3 linked regions of the Homo sapiens genome follow. The protein of the gene in region 1 purifies or fractionates together with the protein of each later gene. This does not show direct contact. Each region holds a gene or a part of one and is shown in the gene's direction. Other genes may lie near its edges.

The links. The genes of interacting proteins can lie anywhere in the genome.
Region 2: the proteins of ENTPD7 (region 1) and DAGLB purify together in Homo sapiens (affinity purification with mass spectrometry; 2 studies listed by BioGRID and IntAct, with this or other methods). This does not show direct contact.
Region 3: the proteins of ENTPD7 (region 1) and CERT1 purify together in Homo sapiens (affinity purification with mass spectrometry; 2 studies listed by BioGRID and IntAct, with this or other methods). This does not show direct contact.

What each region holds. Positions count from the first base shown.
Region 1 is NC_000010.11:99,704,493-99,711,518, forward strand, and holds the end of ENTPD7 (ectonucleoside triphosphate diphosphohydrolase 7), read left to right. Parts: coding exon 1-191; 3' UTR 192-6,749; downstream 6,750-7,026. UniProt on the Homo sapiens protein: Catalyzes the hydrolysis of nucleoside triphosphates and diphosphates in a calcium- or magnesium-dependent manner. Preferentially hydrolyzes nucleoside 5'-triphosphates, with substrate preference for UTP > GTP > CTP.
Region 2 is NC_000007.14:6,430,944-6,437,969, reverse strand, and holds part of DAGLB (diacylglycerol lipase-beta), read left to right. Parts: intron 1-1,436; coding exon 1,437-1,608; intron 1,609-2,949; coding exon 2,950-3,208; intron 3,209-5,010; coding exon 5,011-5,133; intron 5,134-7,026.
Region 3 is NC_000005.10:75,501,619-75,508,644, reverse strand, and holds part of CERT1 (ceramide transfer protein), read left to right. Parts: intron 1-2,528; coding exon 2,529-2,663; intron 2,664-7,026. UniProt on the Homo sapiens protein: Shelters ceramides and diacylglycerol lipids inside its START domain and mediates the intracellular trafficking of ceramides and diacylglycerol lipids in a non-vesicular manner.

The sequences.
Region 1 (7,026 bases):
GGTTCCGTCTCTCCTTTGTATACAACCACTATCTCTTCTTTGCCTGTATCCTGGTGGTGCTACTGGCCATCTTCCTATACCTTCTGCGGCTACGCCGAATTCACCACCGACAAACACGAGCCTCAGCTCCATTGGACTTGCTGTGGCTTGAAGAGGTGGTGCCCATGATGGGAGTACAGGTGGGGCCGTGAGGCTGGACCAGGACTAGAGAAGCTTGAGCACCCCCGAGTTGCTGCTCATTGAATTCCTCCACTTTCTTATATAGCCTCAGATGCTGTGATGTCTGACCTTGTGGATATTTGCCCTTGGAATTTCTACTTTACTTTCTACCGTAATTCCTTCTCCGTACCCAGGTCTTCTCTGAGAGAAGCTATAATTTAATCTGTGAGGAACTAAATGACAGGAGATTGGTGCTAATACGGGGGACCAAGCTTTGTCCAAGTGAAGCAGGCTTCGACTCCTTCTGAGAGGTCTGGTGTGTTCCTAGAATCTCACCTTTTCTTCCCTTGCTAAAGCATGAAGTTTGGCATTTGGCACACTGGAAGCCTGGTTGAAATGAAATTTGTAGCATCTGATACAAAGCCAGAGACATTCTAGCAAGTGCAGCAGCCCCTTCTTTCTCTGTAACAGAGATATCATTTATGTGGAGATCCACAACCTTTAACAGGGATCCAAGATCTTTGCAGTTCAATCGACCACATAGGAATTTCCAGGCACCAAAATGATATAACTTCCTTGCTTCCTTGACAAAGAAGCCATCATGGGTGTGATCCAAGATCCCTGTCGTAGTGTTGATGATGTTAGTACATGATTTTAAAGGTTAGAACCCCTTCTAAATGAATGGTCTGTGGAAGATTTTAGTATCTTATCTGATGCCTGGTATGATGAGGATAGAAAATTTTTCCATTTTTATGTGCCTCACAGGCTGTTTGGGCATTAATTTTGCTTTTTGAGCCTTAAGTGTGTTAGTAGGATGGAGAAACTGTGATGGGGACTGGGAACCTGGATTTGTCTGATTTTAGGTCACTGTTCCCTGGGCCTGTTTTTGTGAGCCCTTACACAGGAAGATATAAAGAGAGTTCTTTCATTTCACTGCTAAAATCAGTATGTAGTATGGGGAATGTATTTGGGTTGTTTTTAAAGAAAAGGGGAACAGAATCAGGAGAGTGGGCAAAGGCAATAAAATCAAAGTTCTTATTAATTATTTCTGAGAAATAGAAGTTTCTCAATTTATGACTCTTGGAATGTCTGAAAGGGAGCAAATTTGGAATAGATCAATCTGTTAATAAGCCATCTGGCAACTTTCAGAACCTCTATTAAGAGACTGCTGAGTCACAAACAGCACTTCCATTAATGAAGCGAGAGGAAAAGCCATAATAATTACATCTTCACCCACTACCCTTCCAGAGCTTTGCTTCTCCTCCACATTTAGCCATTAAATTGCATGAGGATTTCTCTTCATCAGGGTCCGCATGGAATCTTTCTTATATTTTACCCTTTCCTACATGTAGCCTTGAATGTCCTTTCCACGAATATGCTCCCACGGCTGGGAGCATTTTCTTTTCTTTTCGTCACCTTTGATTTTTGGGATTAGATTAATAGGGGAAAAAGTCCCTGGCTTTAAAGAAAACAAAAGTAGAATTCTTCAAAAATAAATTTCATACTGGGAACAGAAAGGAACTAAATGCTTCATAAAACAGGGAAAAAGAAATTAAGATCATCCTAGAAATAAACTAAGATAAAAATAAGTATACTGACCCTTGGTTGGTAGATAAAAAGATGACCAGTCTTGTATTGTTTTAAAATTAGATAAACATGGATTAAGCATGCAAAGACTCTGTTCCTTTTTTTTTTTCTTGGAGACAGGGCCTCACGCTGTCACCCAGGCTGGAGTGCAGTTGTGCAACATCATGGCTCACCGCAGCCTCAACCTCCTGGGCTCAAACAGTCCTCCCAACTCAGACTCCAGAGTAGCTGGGACTACAGGTGTGCGCCACCACACTCAGCTAATTTTTTATTTTATTTTTTTAGAGATGGAGTCTGTGTTGTCCAGGCTGGTCTCAAACTCTTGGGCTCAAGCAATCCTCCCACCTCAGCCTCCCAAAGTGCTGGGATTACAAGCATGAGCTACTGCACCTGCCCTCTGTTTCCTTTGGAAATCTCTTACCTTTCATTAGGGTTTCTTTCATAGCAATTTCCTTTGGTTTTTAAGACTTCTACATTGCTTTTTCTTTTATTATCTGTGCTCCGTGAACCTTATGAATGCTGCTTAAAAATAATGTCAAAATATGTTTTAGCTGCCTACTCAGGTAACGTTTTCTTTTGCTCTCATCTTGGTTTCCATATACTATTTTTGGTTTTTTGTGAGATCTAATCAATGATCTAGTCAGAAGCTACTTCACTGGCTAACAGTGATCATGTTCATGTGCTAAAAATGAACTTGAAACACGGAAGTAGTGGTTGGTCCAGTTTGAAAGCTCTTATTAGTATTCTTCATCCTGGCTGTAATAATAGCCATTATTTGTTATGCCTTTGTTATGTAGCAGACACTCTTAAGGATTTTATGTGTATTATTCAAATTGCTATTACTGTTCTTTTTATAGTTGAGAATCTCAGGATACCTACATTTATCACTTTTTCAATATATATGTATTTCTTATTCTTATTTTGTCTTGGAGTGTTTAATGTGTTATTTCCTGTTCATTACTTTAATATTATGGTATCTAGGCTTGTCTTTATTACCATGAGCAAGGTCTCCAGGAGTTCCACAGTACTGAAGGAAAATTTTGTCATATCCCTCAGAAGAACTGAATATTTATTATTGGTATGGGCTCCTTTGTTTATTCTCTTCTCCCAATTAATAGATTTTAAATGAAATCTTATTAGCTAGAAACAAAAGCCACTTACTCCTTGCTGAGAGCCAATTACTTAAATATATTTCTTCCTTATAATAAAATAATTTGCTTCTAGGAGCAGAAATCTATCTTGCCATACCCTTTGGTTTTTAAAGATTTCTCTTCTATTTGCATTTCTGCACTTTGGTGGTTCTCCCATGAAGATAATTATGGTGTCATAAAATTCACATTCCACTGGTTCCTTTGAATCTTACCAACCACTCTTGTTAACAGAGACAATGAACCTGAACTGTTTTAGGACTCTTGTTATTACTGAGACAGGTCACAAACATCAAAATAGGAGTCCGTGGCTTGTAGTGATGCTTTTTAGTCTTGTGATAGCACAATCCATCACTTTCCCCAAAATTCTTGTCATAGAACATAATGAAAAATATGTAAAATACCCATTTATGTGGCATTTCATTCACTTAAGTTGCAGTTAACTCTAAGCCAAATTATACCATTTTTTCTCTCTGTACTTTAGCTCCTTGAATTTCCTTAATCTGGGAAACTTTTGTTCCCACACCAAGGAACAAATTCAGGGGGTACAAGTGCAGGTTTGTTACATGAGTATATTGAGTGATGCTGAGGTTTGGGGTACAGATCCCATCACCAGGTGGTGAGCATAGTACCTAACAGATAGTTCTTTAATCCATGCCCTCCTCTCTCCCTCCCTGCTCTAGTAGTCCACAGTGTCTATTCTGGTCTGGGAAATTTTCATCACTTTCCACCAATCTTCTATTTATTCTCCAAATGTCTTCCAAAGTATCCTGCCCCACCCCCTCCTCATCCTAAGAGATTCCTTTAACTTCAAGATCATATCCAGTGATTGCTGAAAAATGTCTGCCATGCACTTGCTAAGCTAGTGTTTTTAGGCATTAACATTTATTATCACATCCATATTTATATTTTTGAAATAATTTATACTTCTCACTGATATCATCTAAACAGATGCTTCTCACAGTTTTATGTTTTGTTTTTTGTCAGGGATGAAAGACAAGTGAGTGGTATCACTTAAGGGAAAGAACAGTAGGCTTAACGAATAGCAGACCTGGATTCTAGTTCTGGCTTTGTCATTTACTAGCTCTGGTACCCCAGGCCAGTCACTTACCATCTCTGGTTCGGTTCTCATCTATCAAACAAAGAGGCTAGACAAGATTAGAAACTAAAGGCAGAAGACAAGGTAGAAAAATCATATGATTTTGGGAAGAGCATTTTGTCCTTTGGTTTAGAAGACCAGGCTGCCCAAAAGAGCCTCCTATTTTATCCATAACCCCTGATGATAAGGTTGGTGGGAACAGAGTTTCTAATAGTAATCATAATAAATTTCAGAAGAGTTTTAAAGCTTCTGGTCAACCCCCTTGATTTATATGGGTGATAAAACTGAGGCCTAGAGCAGTTGTAATATGTGCAAAGTCATAGTGACTGGCCTCCTAGCCCAACTACTTTGTCAGCTACAATGAAATGCTCATTAACAGAATCTTTCTGCAAGTATAAACAGAATCTATTTTTTATAAAACAGCTGGCCACAACTAACCATGCCCCATCTTTACAACTGCTTCTGACATTCATTTATGACTGCTTTGCTCACATTTAGGAATAAACTTTGAAAAAAATACTTTGTCAGAAATAGTGCCAAGTTTTCACTACATCTATTCTTGTTCCTGTATTTCTTTTCGTACTTTTAAATTTTATACATCTTTTTAAAACAATTTTATACAATTTCCTTTACTACAACATCCAAGCAATTCATTAGATGACTACAGCCTAGATGAAGGTATAAATGCCTATTACATCTACCTCATTAAAGAACTTCGTTGTAATTCTTGGGCAGTTTCCAGACTCTGTTACAGAAACAGAGGGCTGTTTCTTTTTGTTGTCTTTAAACTTTTCAAATTAATTCAAAACTAGTATCTAATTGTCCTTTTTGCTGTGGTATGTGGTGTAATGTTGATTGGGAATAAGAATTATGGTAGAAATAGCAGATGTTTCAAATTCTCCCATATTAGTCTCTTAGGGACGCTAGCTCCAGATTCCAGCCCCTGGGGCAATAACTTGTGAGGATTTTCCTGGTGTTACAAAAAATATTGCTGTTAAAAAACTAAGACTCAAAACCAAAAGTTGTGATTAATAATAACAGGATTATTAGTCAATAATATTTTGATTAATACTATAGAATAGCAACAGTGAATATACCTCAAATTGAAAACTTTTAGGTTGTGTTCTTGGCTCATTCTCTCATAACCTGGATCTAAGTTGGAAAGCTGTGGCACCCTGTTTGGGTGTCCCATCTACCCTGTTTTCTGTTTCTGCAGATGGCTTGTTCAAGCTTCATTTTAAGCCTGCTCTGTCTACTTATCTTCCTTATATCCTAATAGACTTCTCTTGTGTTATTACACATTTCTCTTTTGCTCTAATATTTCATTATTTTCCAGTTTGTCAGTACCGTTATCAGAGGGACGAGGAAGGAATAACACACCAGTTGACCATTTTGTTTCTCTGAAAATCTGAGCAATACGGAGATCCTTTTATTAGTAAAACTGAATCATTACTCATACTACAAGGGCTTTCACTTTTAAAATGTAATCCATCATTGCTTGCCATTTTTATGAAAACCAAAGTTGAAAAGTCTTCTGAATCACAGGCTATGTATAGCCACACATGCATGACTTCAGGCTAGCATAAAGACATGTCTGCTCCTGAGCCTCTTCTTTTAAAGGGCAACCACTTGTATACCCTCTGGTGGCCACTCCTCCTTCTCCACTCCAAGGCAGCCCTGGTACTTTCCTAAGTGGCCCCTCCTACAGAGCACTTGCCGGCATTTGGCCTGCTGCTGGTGAAGACGCCCCTTACTAGCTTCATAAATGTTTTTCTGCAAGCAGGGATCCCAGACACATACTTTGGTTTCTAGTGTTTCAGTTACTATGTTGTATTTGAAATTCTCATTCCACAATTACCCTTTAGTTGAAGTCCTGAAGTACATGCCATGTACTCCCCCTTTATTTCTACCTTGATCAATGGCCTCTGCGGAGTGTAGTGAAAGACATCTTTTTATTATGATCTACACTTTAAAAAACCAAAGGCTGCCTGTATTACATTGCTTTGGGGAGTTGTTAAGACTCTGTTTTTTCTACTGCTTCACATTAAACAATAATTTTGTTGAATTTTGAATTCTTAAAATTCTCACTGACAAACATTTTAGGTCAGTGTTGAGGAAAATGTGTGATGCATGTTAGAGAGGTGATGCATTCTCCCTTATGCAGGGACATGGGTATATGTGTTACATATGCTGATATATAACCCACCATTCATCCCAGGACCACAAGGGTAGCTGTAGATAAACTGGTTATCCTAAAATCATGATTATCAGTGTTGATCTCTGCAACCAACATTGCTTTAGGGAGTTGCTAGTCATTACCCCTGCTACAATAGATAGTATTTGTCAGTCTAAGTTACAGACAAAAAATTCTAGGTTGACTGATTAAGAAAGCCATGTGTTTTAATTTCCTTCATGTTTTAAAAACAATGGACGTAAGTGCAGAGAGACCTTTGAAAATATTAAGGGAAATCTATTTAATCCTATAGGTATGTGATGACTTGTTTTTTTGGAAAAAGGTATTTGGAACATCAATCTGTAATTATCCATTTTCCATTCATGCATTCACTAATTCAATATTTGATATGTGTCTGGGAGTGCTGGGAATAACATAAATACAAAAAAAACCCTAAGATAATCATTCACCAGAAGCTCATAGATATAATACAGTTATATAGCTAAATGCAACCAGTTGTTTTTCCAAATGTACTCATCATCTGTAATAAAAGAAAAATGAAGTAAAACATCTGAAACCTTAACTTACTCATGAGTTGCTACTTCCTTGGAGGCAACTGTAGAAGCATTAATATATGGTTCTTTGGGTTGGGTCATACTGCCCTCTGCTGACTCAGTTACTAACTAAGGACAACCTGGGTTTGAGGATCAGGAGAGGATGGTGTGGGAACCTGCCTCAGGAACTACAGTTCCCTTTCTTTGAAGGATTCTATCCAGAAGAGACCATATCCTACTAACATACTAATAGGAGCAACATAGCAGATCAAATGATAAGGTGGGGTGGAAATTAGAAGGGAATGG
Region 2 (7,026 bases), on another chromosome or scaffold:
AATTTTTTGAATTTAAAAGCTATTTCCTGGTAGGGTGCTGTGGCTCATGCCTGTAATCCCAGCACTTTGCGAGGCAAAGGCGGGCAGATCACTTGAGGTCAGGAGTTCAAGACCAGCCTGGCCAACATGGTGAAACCCAGTCTCTACTAAAAATACAAAAATTAGCCAGGTGTAATGCCTCTAATCCCAGCTACTAGGGAGGCTGAGGCAGGAGAATCACTTGAACCTGGGAGGCGGAGGTTGTGGTAAGCTGAGATCACACTACTGCACTCCAGCCTGGGCGACAGAGTGAGACTCCATCTAAAAAAACAAAAACAAAAATTAACCAAAAAACGCCCACAAAAAAACAACTGTCTATGGGACTATGAGGCCTATTTCAGCGTGGTGGTGTGCACCTGTAGTCCTAGCTACCAGAGAGGCTGAGGTGGGTGGATCACTTGAGCCTGAGAGGTGGAGGCTGCAGTGAGTCATGATTGTGCCACCACACTCCAGCCTGGGCAAGAGAGTGAGACCTTGTCTCCAAAAAGAATGGTAGCTATTACGCTCTCTGAGCTTCAGTTTGCTTGCTCATACGTAAAATGAGATAATGACTAACCCAGTCATTGTGGGGATTACAGAACTACGCACATAAAGTGTTTTAGGTTGGTGTCTAGAACAATGTAGGTCTCAAAGGGACGTGGAGCTTGTTTTCATGGCTGTTAGAACTTGGGTGACCATATATCCCTGTTTGCCTGGGACAGTTCTGTTTTGTGCCTGTTGTCTCAGCATAATTATTACTATTATTATTATTATTATTATTATTATTATTATTATTTTGAGACGGAGTCTTGCTCTGTCACCCAGACTAGAGTGCAGTGGCGCAATCTCAGCTCACTGCAACCTCCGCCTCCTGGGTTCAAGCGATTCTCCTGTCTCAGCCTCCCTCGCAAGTAGCTAGGATTACAGACGCCCGCCACCACGCCTCGCTAATTTTTTAATTTTTAGTAGAGATGAGGTTTCACCATGTTGGCCAGGCTGGTCTCGAACTCCTGACCTCAGGTGATCTACCTGCCTTGGCCTCCTCCCAAAGTGCTGGGAGTACAGGTGTGAGTCACCGTGCCCGGCCCCAGCATAATTATTAATAGTCCCCTTTTTTCCTCTCAGAAGTATACCAGTTTGGGCCATGATTATATTGTCACCCCAGTGAGAACCCAGAAGTGTTTTTAATCCCTGCTAAATCTTAAAAAAGAGCCCAGGACTTCTTGTCACGTTTCCCATCCTCATTTTCTCACTTGCTGTCTGACTTAGGTGCTGATTACCAATTATAAGTAGAAAAAGTCAGGAGGCGGGTGTGCACAGTACAAATGTATGCTCTGCAAAAGCTGTATTTTTGCAAAAAGGAAGCTCTTCATCTCTGAGGAAGCAACTGAGCAGTCGGAACGTTTTTTGTATTTCAGGAACGATTTGTAACCCTGGACCGCGGAAGTCTATGTCTAAGCTGCTTTACATCCGCCTGGCGCTGTTTTTTCCAGAGATGGTCTGGGCCTCTCTGGGGGCTGCCTGGGTGGCAGATGGTGTTCAGTGCGACAGGACAGTTGTAAACGGCATCATCGCAACCGTCGTGGTCAGGTGACATCTCCCTTCTTCTCTTTGAGTTTCAGTGGATTTGAGGCATAGGTGAACAAACCCTTCTAACATGACAGAGAGTCCAGCGTCCCTCGGACTTCCTCAAATAGTTAGAAATTGGAGTTAGTTTCTGCGTAACTCATGAAAATTTAGAGACACTGTTTGTCCATGAAATACAACTCGTCTTTCGTTATGCACGTATTGATGTAGATTTCTTTCCTTACTGGTTCTTTATTTTCTACATTCCCTTCTGTCTCTCTCTCTTTTTTTTTTTTCTTTTTTTCTTAAAGTCTTTTATTCCTAACCCTTCTCTTATAAGAATTCGGAAGAAAACCAAAGACCAAAACCAGAGCAAAAACTAAAACTAAAGGTATGAAAAGAGATACGGTGTCCAGAAGTGGGACAGGGAATAATATTCTAGAACAATAAGGTTTTCGTGTTTTCTAGGCTAAAAATCTTAGAGATGATCCAGTCCCGCCCCCTTAACACCCTCTGTTCTAAATAAGGAATCAGACCTGGGCTGTTGCTGCGTTTCTCGAGTCACACCGCCAGGGGGCAGCAGAGCCCCTTCGGGAGGGGCATTTCCCGGTTGCGTGTGCTCCTCAATCCGGCGTCTTGCAGTGTGAAATATTTAAACATATAGATGAGAGGCCTATCAGAGTACTCTGTGATACCTTCATGAGAAGAGCCCTGAGGCACCGAAGGGGAAGGGCGTATGTCATGGTCCCAGGGCCATATGGAGAAGAAGTGCCCGCTGCATCCGGGCGCAGGCTGCAACTCTGCCCAGCGGACACCTCCCTGTTCCTTCTGTGGCCTTTACTGTTAGGGCAGGGCCTGGGTTAACCACTGATTCATAAGGAACTTTTTTTTTTTTTTCTTTGAGACGGAGTCTCCCTCTGTCGCCCGGCTGGAGTGCAGTGGCGCCTCCTCGGCTCACTGCAATCTCCGACTCTCTGGTTCAAGCGATTCTCCTGCCTCAGCCTCCTCAGAAGCTGGGACTACAGGCACGTGCCACCACACCCAGCTAATTTTTGTGTTTTTAGTAGAGACGGGGTTTCACTATGTTGGCCAGGCTGGTCTCGATCTCCTGACCTCGTGATCTGCCGGCCTCGGCCTCCCAAAGTGCTGGGATTACAGGTGTGAGCCACCATGCCCAGCCTCATAAGGAACTTTCTAGAAGAAAGTTGCTTGCCTCAGGCAGGTTCCAGGAGAGCTGCATCTTCCTCGGTAACAGAACCCTCCGTGGTAGAGACTCAGAAACTGAACCTGGAGGAGGGACCCCGGACATCTGCGTCTGGGCTGGGGCCCGCAGTCACCGAGCCTTTTCCTCTCTCTGTCTTGCAGTTGGATCATCATCGCTGCCACAGTGGTTTCCATTATCATTGTCTTTGACCCTCTTGGGGGGAAAATGGCTCCATATTCCTCTGCCGGCCCCAGCCACCTGGATAGTCATGATTCAAGCCAGTTACTTAATGGCCTCAAGACAGCAGCTACAAGCGTGTGGGAAACCAGAATCAAGCTCTTGTGCTGTTGCATTGGGAAAGACGACCATACTCGGGTTGCTTTTTCGAGTACGGCAGAGCTTTTCTCAACCTACTTTTCAGTAAGCCGAGGGGATCTGGTTTGGTCTGTTTCTTCTGTTTCAGTAAATGCTTCTGATGGAGCCGGTCCCTCTGTTCCCATAAAACCGCGTTTGAGAACCTGGTGTCTTTGGGTGTGTGGGGGGTGGCCGGAGACCCTCTGTCTGTGATGAGCCCTCCAGGGAGCAGTTAACTGCAAGAGCCACACCTTCTCAGACCCTGTGTCCCAATAGGACATGTCTTCGTATTGACACCCACTCACTACCCTGTCAAAATGCTGGATTAGCCTGTAAGGAACCACATAACGGACGCTGTACCCTTTGAGAATAATTTGCAGCTGCTGTTGAGCAGATACCAAGCACAGGCAGTGGCATGAATCGAGGTTGGAATCAGATAGTGAGTGACTTCTTACCACTTTGTATCATGATGGAAATGATCGACGATGCTACTTTTGGAAGACAGTTTGAATAGATGATTGCAGCACAGAAGGGAGCGTCATTCTAGAGCGAGTTCTTCCGCAATTTGAAAATGCTTGTTTTTTTTTTTTCACATGCAGCGTGTCATCTTTTTATATGACATTCTCTGCTAAATGCTGTTAAATTCCATACTGAGATGAGGTAAGGGAGGAAGAGTTCTCTGCTTATCCTGCACACCTGCCAGTCTCTCTTCCCACCTCTGTGCTATCCGACTTGGCACCATTCAGGGCTGGTCCTGGAGCCTGACACCAAGTCATAGCAGCAGCCTCCGTAGAGGGAAGAGGGAAGCGTGTCCCCTCAGTAACTTAAAGAAGTGCTTAAACCTAGTCTTAAGATATCTGGAAGAGGGAAGAAGAGAAGCTGGTTATTTCTAGAGGATGTCGTAATCTACATCACAGGCAGAACTGATGGCTCAGTGGCTGAGTGGCCAGTATATTGTCTTTTTTTTTTTTTTTTTGAGACAAGGTCTCGTTTTGTCACCCGGGCTGGAGTGCAGTGGCGCCATCTTGGCACAACCTCCACCTCCTGTGTTCGAGAGATTCTCCTGCCTCAGCGTACTGAGTAGCTAGAGTACTACAATAGCTGGGATGACAGGCACCTGCCACCACGCCCAGCTAATTTTTGTATTTATAGTAGAGACAGGGTTTCACCATGTTGGCCAGGCTGGTCTCGAACTTCTGACCTCAGGTGATCCGCCCACCTCGGCCTCCCAAAGTGCTGGGATTACAGGCGTGAGTCATCGCACCTGGCAGTATATTGTCCATTCTTACGGGCTACAAGTACCCGGAGGTGATTGAGAATTCCTAATTCCTCCATTTCCTGGAGAAAAAGGACATGTCAGGCCTAAGAAGACTCACTCTCTGTTGCTTTCCCAGCTTGGGGTCCTTTATGAGGCTTGCCATACCCTGTGAGTATGAGTTTAGTCTCATAAATCTCTACCATCCACTGTGTTTCAACAAAACCTTCCCAGCATCTTGAGAAATGAGAGTATAAACGTGGGCTAAAATGGTGCATTGCTACAAAAACGGACAATTTATCCATTGATTTCTCCACTTTACAAAATATTTGAAGTAGATTAAAAATAGTTGAGTCACATGAAGTGAAATTTTAAGACAGACGAATAGCATTTTTATATTCTCCAGTGGACTTGTCTGAGGGCAGGATGTGAAAACATATTCAGGTCACATAGAGAAGCACTCCTGCCAGGAGCAGTCTTTTTAACATACCTCTGTGTCTAGAAATGTCTGTGTGTGCGTGAATGCCTATCAACTATAGAAGACTGGATTTTAGGGAACCCGGGGGTGGTGCCTGCTGGGTTTTATGACAGGCCATTGTGGTTTCCCACCCAGGACACAGATCTGGTGCCCAGCGACATTGCGGCGGGCCTCGCCCTGCTTCATCAGCAACAGGACAATATCAGGAACAACCAAGAGCCTGCCCAGGTGGTCTGCCATGCCCCAGGGAGCTCCCAGGTGAGCCTGGCTTCATGGAGTGTCCAGTTCTGACACTTACACCTTTTGGTGGGTCTTCAGAATCATACAGCTAACCTATAGCAATTTCTTCCTCCCTTCCTTCATTCCCCTTTCCCCTCCCTCCCCTCCCCCTCCTCCCCTTCCCTCCCCTCTCCCACCTTTTTTTTTTTTTTTTTTAAGACGGAGTCTCGCTCTGTCGCCCAGGCTGGAGTGCAGTGGCACAATCGCGGCTTACTGCAAGTTCTGCCTCCCAGGTTCACACCATTCTCCTGCCCCAGCCTCCTGAGTAGCTGGGACTACAGGCGCCTGCCACCACACCTGGCTAATTTTTTTTCTTATTTTTAGTAGAGACGGGGTTTCACCGTGTTAGCCAGGATGGTCTCCATCTCTTCACCTCATGATCTGCCCACCTCAGCCTCCCAAAGTGCTGGGATTACAGGCGTGAGCCACCGTGCCCAGCCTCCCCTCCCCTTTTTTTCTTTTTCTTTTTATGAGATGGAGTTTTGCTCTTGTTGCTCGGGCTGGAGTGCAATGACACAATTGGCTCACCACAACTTCCACCTCCCGGGTGATTCTCCTGCCTCAGCCTCCTGAGTAGCTGGGATTACAGGCGCATACCATCACACTCAGCTAATTTTTTGTATTTTTAGTAGAGATGGGGTTTTGCCATGTTGGCCAGGCTGGTCTCAAACTCATGACCTCAGGTAATCTGCCTGCCTCGGCTTCCCAGAGTGCTGGGATTACAGGCATGAGCCACCACACCGGGCCTATTTTTCATTTTTTTAACTTTTATTTTAGGTTCAGGGGTACATGAGCAGGGTTGTTACACCGGTAAACTCATGTCACGAAGGTTTGTTGTACAGATTATTTTGTCACCCAGGTACTAAGCCTAGGACCCTACAGCAGTTTCATTAGCAGCAGGGTTGGAATCTGATTGGCGGCTTCCACTGGTTGTATTGCATCACCTGTCAGGTGAGGCATCTTCGTTATCAACTGGAGTTCAGGTAGTGGGAACCCATTCCTGGCCACTTTATCATCCATCATATCTTTATTTTTTATTTTATTTTTTGAGACAGAGTCTCTGTCACCCAGGCTGGAGTGCAATGGCATGATCTTGGCTCACTGCACCCTCTGTCTCCTGACTTCAAGCAATTCTCCTGCCTCAGCCTCCACAGTAGCTGGGACTACAGGCGTGCACCACCATGCCCAGCTAATTTTTGTATTTTTAGCAGAGACGGGGTTTCACCGTGTTGGCCAGGCTGTTCTCAAACTCTTAGCCTCAAGTGATTTGCCGGCCTTGGCCCCCCAAAGTGCTGGGATTACAGGCGTGAGCCACTGCATCCGGCCACATTTATCATATCTTTGAAGGCTTATGTTTTAGGAAATTTGCTGTTCAATTCTATGCATTAGAACAATTCCTCCTGGGATGGGGACTGCGATTCTCCCTGGGTGTGTTTGCTTTCTTCTCTGGGGCTGGGGGCAGAAGCAGTTCAGCTTTGCTTGGTGATAATTTTCCTGCCACAGGTTGTTATGTTTTTGAGAAAGAAAATTGCACGTAGACGGTATGTATCTTCGCTGCTCCGGGTTAAGCCACTCAGTTCTTGACAGCTCGTGTGTGGCAGTGGCATGGAAATGTACTAGTTTCAGGCATCTAGATAGGAAGCGCCGGCTCATTTCAGCAAAAACAGCAGAGAAGTCATTGGAGTGTTTTTTACTGTTAACTTCCCCGTGCTTGCTGTGTTCCTATAAAATGAGGAGTCAGGCTGGGCGTGGTGGCTCACGCCTGGCTTCCCAGCACTTTGGGAGGCCAAGGCAGGTTGATCACCTGAGGTCGGGAGTTCGAGACCAGCCTGGCCAACATGGTGAAACCCCGTCTCTACTAAAAATACAAAA
Region 3 (7,026 bases), on another chromosome or scaffold:
CAGTAATATTTGATTCCCCTGCAGTGTCTAGCATATTGCCTTATCTGTATTTGTTAAATGGGGAAGAGTGAGGGAACATTATGAGAGCAGAGAAAAGACAAAAAACTTGTCTTCCAGGTGTCATGATACAGCTAATACTTACTGAGTAAAGGGTCCTGAAGCTGATACAGTTTGTTCAGTCTCTTATAAGAACTAATATTAAGTTATGGATACATAATTGCTGGGGCTTCTCCTCTAACATTGAAAGAGTTCTATTCTAGTGAGAAATGCTGAAGGTTAAGCTTCATTAGCTATGTATAACTCTTCCTCAGATTCAGAAAATACTATGTCCAGGCACTGTTCTAAGTCTATTCTTGTTTAAACTTAACTCTAAGAGAATTTGACAAAGAAAAAAAGAACACAAAGAGAATAAGTAACTTGACCACTGTCACAAAGTTTAGCCTTATGAAGTGTGGTAATTGTAAATGAGGTAGGATTAATCCATGAAGGGTCTTGAATGCCCTAAACAATTTGTATGACAGTCAGTGGGAAGTTGTCCATGTAAGTTTTGGAGCTAGAGACTCAATACGATCAATGTAAGAAAAGTAGGCAAATATGCTTAGTAAGTAAATAAGCTTGTGTAAATTATGAAAAAAACAGAAGATACTAGAGAAAAAATTATTAAGTCTCCTAAGGAATACAGGAACTGGATAATTTGATTGGAATAGTTGAAAATGAGAAGAGGAGGCAAATTTAAGGGTTTACTATGAAGGAAAGATGAGCAGCTTTTGGTAATGGGCTATAAATATTGAGAAGGAACACTTAGGTATTGAGTATCTTCTGTGACTATGCTAGGCATTTTCATTATTTTATTCGGCCGTCAGTCAACAGGCAAAGAAACTGAAGTTTACAAAAGTAACTTGTCAAAACTCTCTTCACATGAGTTATAAAATAGTTGAGCCTATTTTATCCTATATCCACTAATCTGTTTGTATATCTAATACACTAACTCTGAGCAGAAGTAGCAGTCTCCCCAAGGAAGTAGGAAAATAGGAAGGAAGTATACTTTATAGGAAGGTGAATTCAGTTTTATTGGTAACTATCATTTATTTCAAGCCCGTGTCTAAGTGGTGGTACATCTCAAGCAGTTAGAAATAAGGAAATGGTGATTGGGAGCCACTAGAATGAGTTAAATGTTGGCTTGGGTGAGTTCTCAGAGAGTGGTTGTAATGATGGGGCTTAGAAAAATTAAGAACTGGCTAGGGATGGTGGCTCACCTGTAGTCCCAGCACTTTGGGAGACCAAGGAAGACAGATCGCTTGAGCCCAGGAGTTTGAGACGAGCCTTGGCACCATAGCGAAACCTCATTTCTACAAAAAATTAGCCAGATGTGGGGGTGCACACCTGTAGTCTCAATCACTTGGGAGGCTGAGGTGGGAGGATTGAGCCCAGGAGATTGCGGTAAACTGAGATGGTGCCACTGCACTCCATCCTGGGTGACAGAGCGAGACCCTGTCTCAAGAAAATACTAAATAAAAGAAAATTTAAGAAGTGAATCAATCTCAAAAATGCTTAATTAGAGAACAGAAAAATAAAAGATTTCTCAGTGGATATAGAGCCTGAGCCAATGCAGTATATTTTGGCAATCCATTTTTAATTAGTTTTTGGAATTGGCAGATAGTTTTTGAGATTTTTCTATACTTAACACCCCAGAGCATAGATAAAAACATGCAAAAATAAGTATTCCTGTAAAGGTTACATTTCTGCCTTTTCCAGTTTATTGTGATCTTCACTTTGCAGCAAGACTTTAGCAACACAGAAACTCTTAAGGTATTGAAGACAATCCAATATGTTTTTGAAAAGCAATTTTATTTTTGTTTTATTACTCTTGAGTTTGAAAAATGCATGTTCAGAGGAACTTGGAAAATGTATTGGCCATTTTTAATATTATTCAGTTCTGTAGAGGAAAAGTTAAAGTTGATGCCAGCTTACTAAAGATTATTATTTTTATTTTGATATAGTTACAGCTGTTATAAATTTTCATATAGGAATAACAACAAAAGTAGAGTTTAGCAATAATTGACTTTATACTTCCGTTGATTTAGAAGGCTTCATGCAGTCTTTGGTGTCAGAATGAGAGACTACATACATAACTGAACATACTTCTCTGTTGAATATGTTAATTATGACAAGGACCAAAACAAATATCATGAAGGTACTTAGGAGAGGATGAAAGCATACGAAGAATAAACAATAATTTTAACCAAAATCTGGCTTTCGTTTTATTCTTCAAATGTTAGAAGAAAATGTTATATTTTATTTCTTACAGATTTATTTATAATATTGTAAAAATTACTGAAAATCATTATGCAATCTAGAAAATCTCAACTTTTCACTTTTTGTAATCATTTTACTGTTTATGCTTAGAATTAAGTTGGACTTTTCACGTTTTGGTTTTAAAATTAGATTGCTGTTTCACAAAGTTTGGATTTCTAAAATACTTCTATTTTTTGTTTTCTTCTCTCTTCCCTTCCCCTTCCCACTCCCAGTGGACAAACTACATTCATGGGTGGCAGGATCGTTGGGTAGTTTTGAAAAATAATGCTCTGAGTTACTACAAATCTGAAGATGAAACAGAGTATGGCTGCAGAGGATCCATCTGTCTTAGCAAGGCTGTCATCACAGTAAGTTCCTTTTCTTCTTCATTCAACAAATATTTATTGAGTGTCAGCTACATACCAGGAACTGTTCTACGTGTTCAGGATACATCCGTGGATAAGATAAAGATCCTTGTCCTTGTAGAATATACATTCTAATACTTTTTTCCATAAAGTGATTTTACTGTGGTTTTTACTACATATTGTTATTTTGCATAGACATGTAGTTTTTATCTGGTGGGTATATCAAACCAGTTTAAGGGCTTCAGGAAAAAAAAATGTTTGAAGCCTTTTTATTTGTTGAGGCTGGGACAGTTACTTTGTAGGTTACTGAATATTTAAAAATAATACATCTTGTAAGTAACATTCTAAAATTTTAACTTAAAAATATAAATGTAAATTCATTTTTAAACTTTTTAACATTGAGCTAATGCCATCTCTTTGTGGAGTTGGGAGAAGCTGTTCTCATGTTCCTCACACATGATTTGCTATTTACAGTTTTGATTTCTCTAATGTGGAATAAAAGCCTGAAGATAACTTTTGAAAAACTCTAAGTATAGGCTCCTTCTAACTTTTTATGATTTCCCCTTATATTTTGCAGTTACATCACTTTTCTCCAATTCAACACCCTTTAAAAGAATAACTCACCTTCGTTGAGTCATTCTACTTAGTTTACATTTTGTTGTTCTTTTTTTGTTTTTTTGTTTTGTTTTGTTTTGTTTTTGAGACAGTCTTGCTCTGTCACCCAGGCTGGAGTGCAGTTCTGTGGTCTCAGCTCACTGCAACCTCGACCTCCCAGGTTCAAGCAATTCTTCTGCTTCAGCCTCCCAAGTAGCTGGGACTATAGCCACGTGCCATCACGCCCGGCTAATTTTTGTATTTTTAGTAGAAATGGGGTTTCACTGTGTTGGCCAGGCTGGTCTCAAACTCCTGACCTCAAGTGATCCACCCACCTCAGCCTCCCAAAGTGCTGGGATTACAGGCATGAGCCACCGCGCCTGGCCTACTTAGTTTACATTTAACTTAGTATATAGAAACAACTGTTCCTTTTTGCACTCGTAGTCATTAGACATGAATAATGTTTAAGATATGTAAGAACTATAACAAGTAAACTGGCATAAACAGGTTTGGGAACAACCAACTGACTTGTTAAGCATGTAACCCAACTAGTGAGAACAGAAGTACCTGATAATACAAAAAATAGCATACTGGTTAAGAATGGTCAGCATGCCATGGGCCAAAAAAAAAAAAAAAAAAGTGTTGGCTAAGGCCAGACAGTTAAATAGAGGTCAGTTAAGGGAGCTGTTGTAGTTAAAATCTGAAAATGGGTACGTTAAAACAAAAATACAGAGTTTACTAACTCACTCAAAGAGAAGTCACATTTTGTGATAGAATTTATTTGGCTTATAAAAGTGAAAGATATATATATAATACTTCAGATTTCCGTTAATATCTAATCCTTACTTAGCGTATGTTTGTTATGCATTTAGGGAAAATCTTACAGTATTTTTACATTATTTTTTATACATTATTTCCCCCCTTGTATATTCAAAGTTTGAAAACAAAAGTTTAGAATTGAATATCAAGTTAGAGAAACACAGAAGAAATATTTGGAAGTGTTGATAATGAAACTACGCTCTCTATTCTTAGAGACAATTTTTAGGAAATAGCTTTAACATAAAGGCTCAGTATTTATTTTGACTGGTATGTGGTACATTGTAATGTGTTTAGAAATTGTATCTAGTTTAATATTTTGGGTGTTTTTCTTCCGAGATAGATCATTATTCATATCAATGGACAGAATAGTGGATTGAAATGTACCTTGCGATCTTGAAGTGTTTTTCCTTGATCCTCCACTCCCCTTCTTTTGCGTATTATTATTGGATGTTTATTAGTTGCAATGCTTAACTCTTTGAAAATAGTATAATGATTGATGTAAAAATGGGGAGGAATTAAATTTTATCTTTATTATTCTCTAAGTAGTAGTATTCCTAGAGTACCATGCTAGTTTCTGTGGATTTAAATATAGTTATTCTGTCTTGAATTATGGACTATAATAATGTTGCCTGGCTTATTTGGAGAAAAGAAAATTTTAAATTAAACATTTAATTTAAATGTTTAATTTAAATTAAACAAAAAATTTAAATGTTTAATTTAAATTAAACAAAAAATTTAAATTTTAACATTTATATCCATCTTCTCAGGAAGAAAACAGTGTTACTTTATTGTAATTGATTTTTGTTATAGCTATATGTACATGCATAACTTTCATTGTGGTACATAGTAAAAGACATGCGTAGGAACAAGAAACAATTTGAATTCTTTGAAGGAGAGATAAAAGTAGAAGTAAAAAGATGAATTAGGCAACAAAATCTGTGTGGTAGTCTTAGATACAATGAAATGGATGATAGGAAAAAACACAAGCATTTATATTATTGAACTTGAACTTTCCTTGCCCTTTGGGTTCACAGACTCCATGTTACATATTTAAAGGAAATTAAAAATATAACTGAATTCAGTGAACTCAGGATGAGTTTACAAATTAGAGTATGTACTTTAGTTAAATAAATAAATGTAATAGTAATATTCCTCATTAAATTTTAATAGGCATCTCTTGGTATTTTTTTTCCTTAAATATGGGCTATGCCTATTGTCACTTCATGTCAGAATACAAAGAATGTAAATGTTTAATTTCTTTATATGGCACTCTTATGAAATTGATAATATTCACGTACAAAGAAATCTGGGCTTGAAGAGTTGATGTGACTTTACTGTAACCATTCATTACTATATTATTTGTTGGTGGACCTAGCATCTGAACCCACATTTCTTGATAGAGCCTAATCCATTTTAAGTTCATTCTTAGTTTAATGATTAAATCACTCTTAATTTATAAAAACAATATTCTTTATCTGTGTGATAATAAAGTGGGTGAAATAATTTCAAGGAAGAAAGTATGTCTTGAGAGAATTTATTCCTTAATGTGAAAGGATTGACAGTAAGTAGGTGAGAGGAAAAATAGTATTCCCTTACTTTGTGTAAAAAGAGCTATTTGTATGTAGAATAAGTGTTTGTAGAAAGACAGTTGAATTCTTCAGTTATTATAGCTTGATACTTAGAAGACCCAGCCCCTGCTACAAAATTTGCCGCATAGTAGATATTCTGAATATGTTAGTTGTAATTGTTTCAATTAAAAGCAAATGTTTATGGAATATTTACACTGTTTACTTTTTATATTCTATTTTTAAAATAAAGTGCACATGATAAAAAATATAATTTGTGGCATTAAAAAGTTTAAGAAGTACATGCTGCTTTTTAGTCTTGCACTTGAGGGACAACCAAACTTAAATTTCTGGTCATCCTTTCAGAAAATATGTAGGACTATACAAGGATTTGTTTATATCTTTCATAAATATTTACACAAATGGTATCATATTAAGCCTATTGTTCTGCACCTTGTTTTAATACAACTTACACATTAACTGTTATATTCTGTTGAATCGTGTGGATATATTATATTTATTTGCCTGGACCCTGTTTTTGCACATTTAAATCATGCCTAATTTTTATTACAATCATTATTGAAACAAATATGTACTTTAAAATTTGTTTTTAGTTATTGTCAAATACTCCTTCAAGAGTACCACTCCTCACTCCTACCAGTAGTGAATGAGTGCCTCTGTTTCTCCTTACCCGCAAGTATTGAGGAAGTTGGGTTTGGCAAATGTTAAAGTATTTGTCAAACTGCTACATTAAAATGGTATCTTATTATTTTAAATTGCACTTTTTATCCATGAGGTTGAGTAACTTAATAATTTATAGCCCATTTTTATTTCTTTTTCCTTTTCCAATTGCTTATGCACTTTTTTTTTGGTTTTTCTTTCCTTTTTGGCTTGTAGAAACTCTTCATATGGTAATTAACCATTTGGCACATTTGTTGCAAATATTTTCCCCCACATTGTCACTTGTCTGTTTCTTCTTTGCTTGTTTTATAGTCTATATTAGGCCCTAGAGAAATCTTAGATTTTTACATACTCTTATTGACATCTTTTATTACGGCTTCTGTATTTACTTGTTTAGATAGGTGTTTCTCTCTCAAAGACTATCTCTCTATATGAATGTAGATATATTTTCATCTAAAATTTACACTTGAATTTTGATTCCTGTGGAAGTTATTTTAGTTTAAGGAGTGATATTGATGTTTTTAGTTTTTTTTCCACATGACTAATTATGTATCCTGGTAGCATTAATTAAATAACTAACCTTTTTCCAAGTGGTTTCAAACACCACTTTCATCATATATTACGGTCCCATATTTATTTAAGGTTGTTTCTGGACTCTCTTCTGGGCATTTGGCTTGTCCTTCTTATCCTCTGTTTAAAATTATATT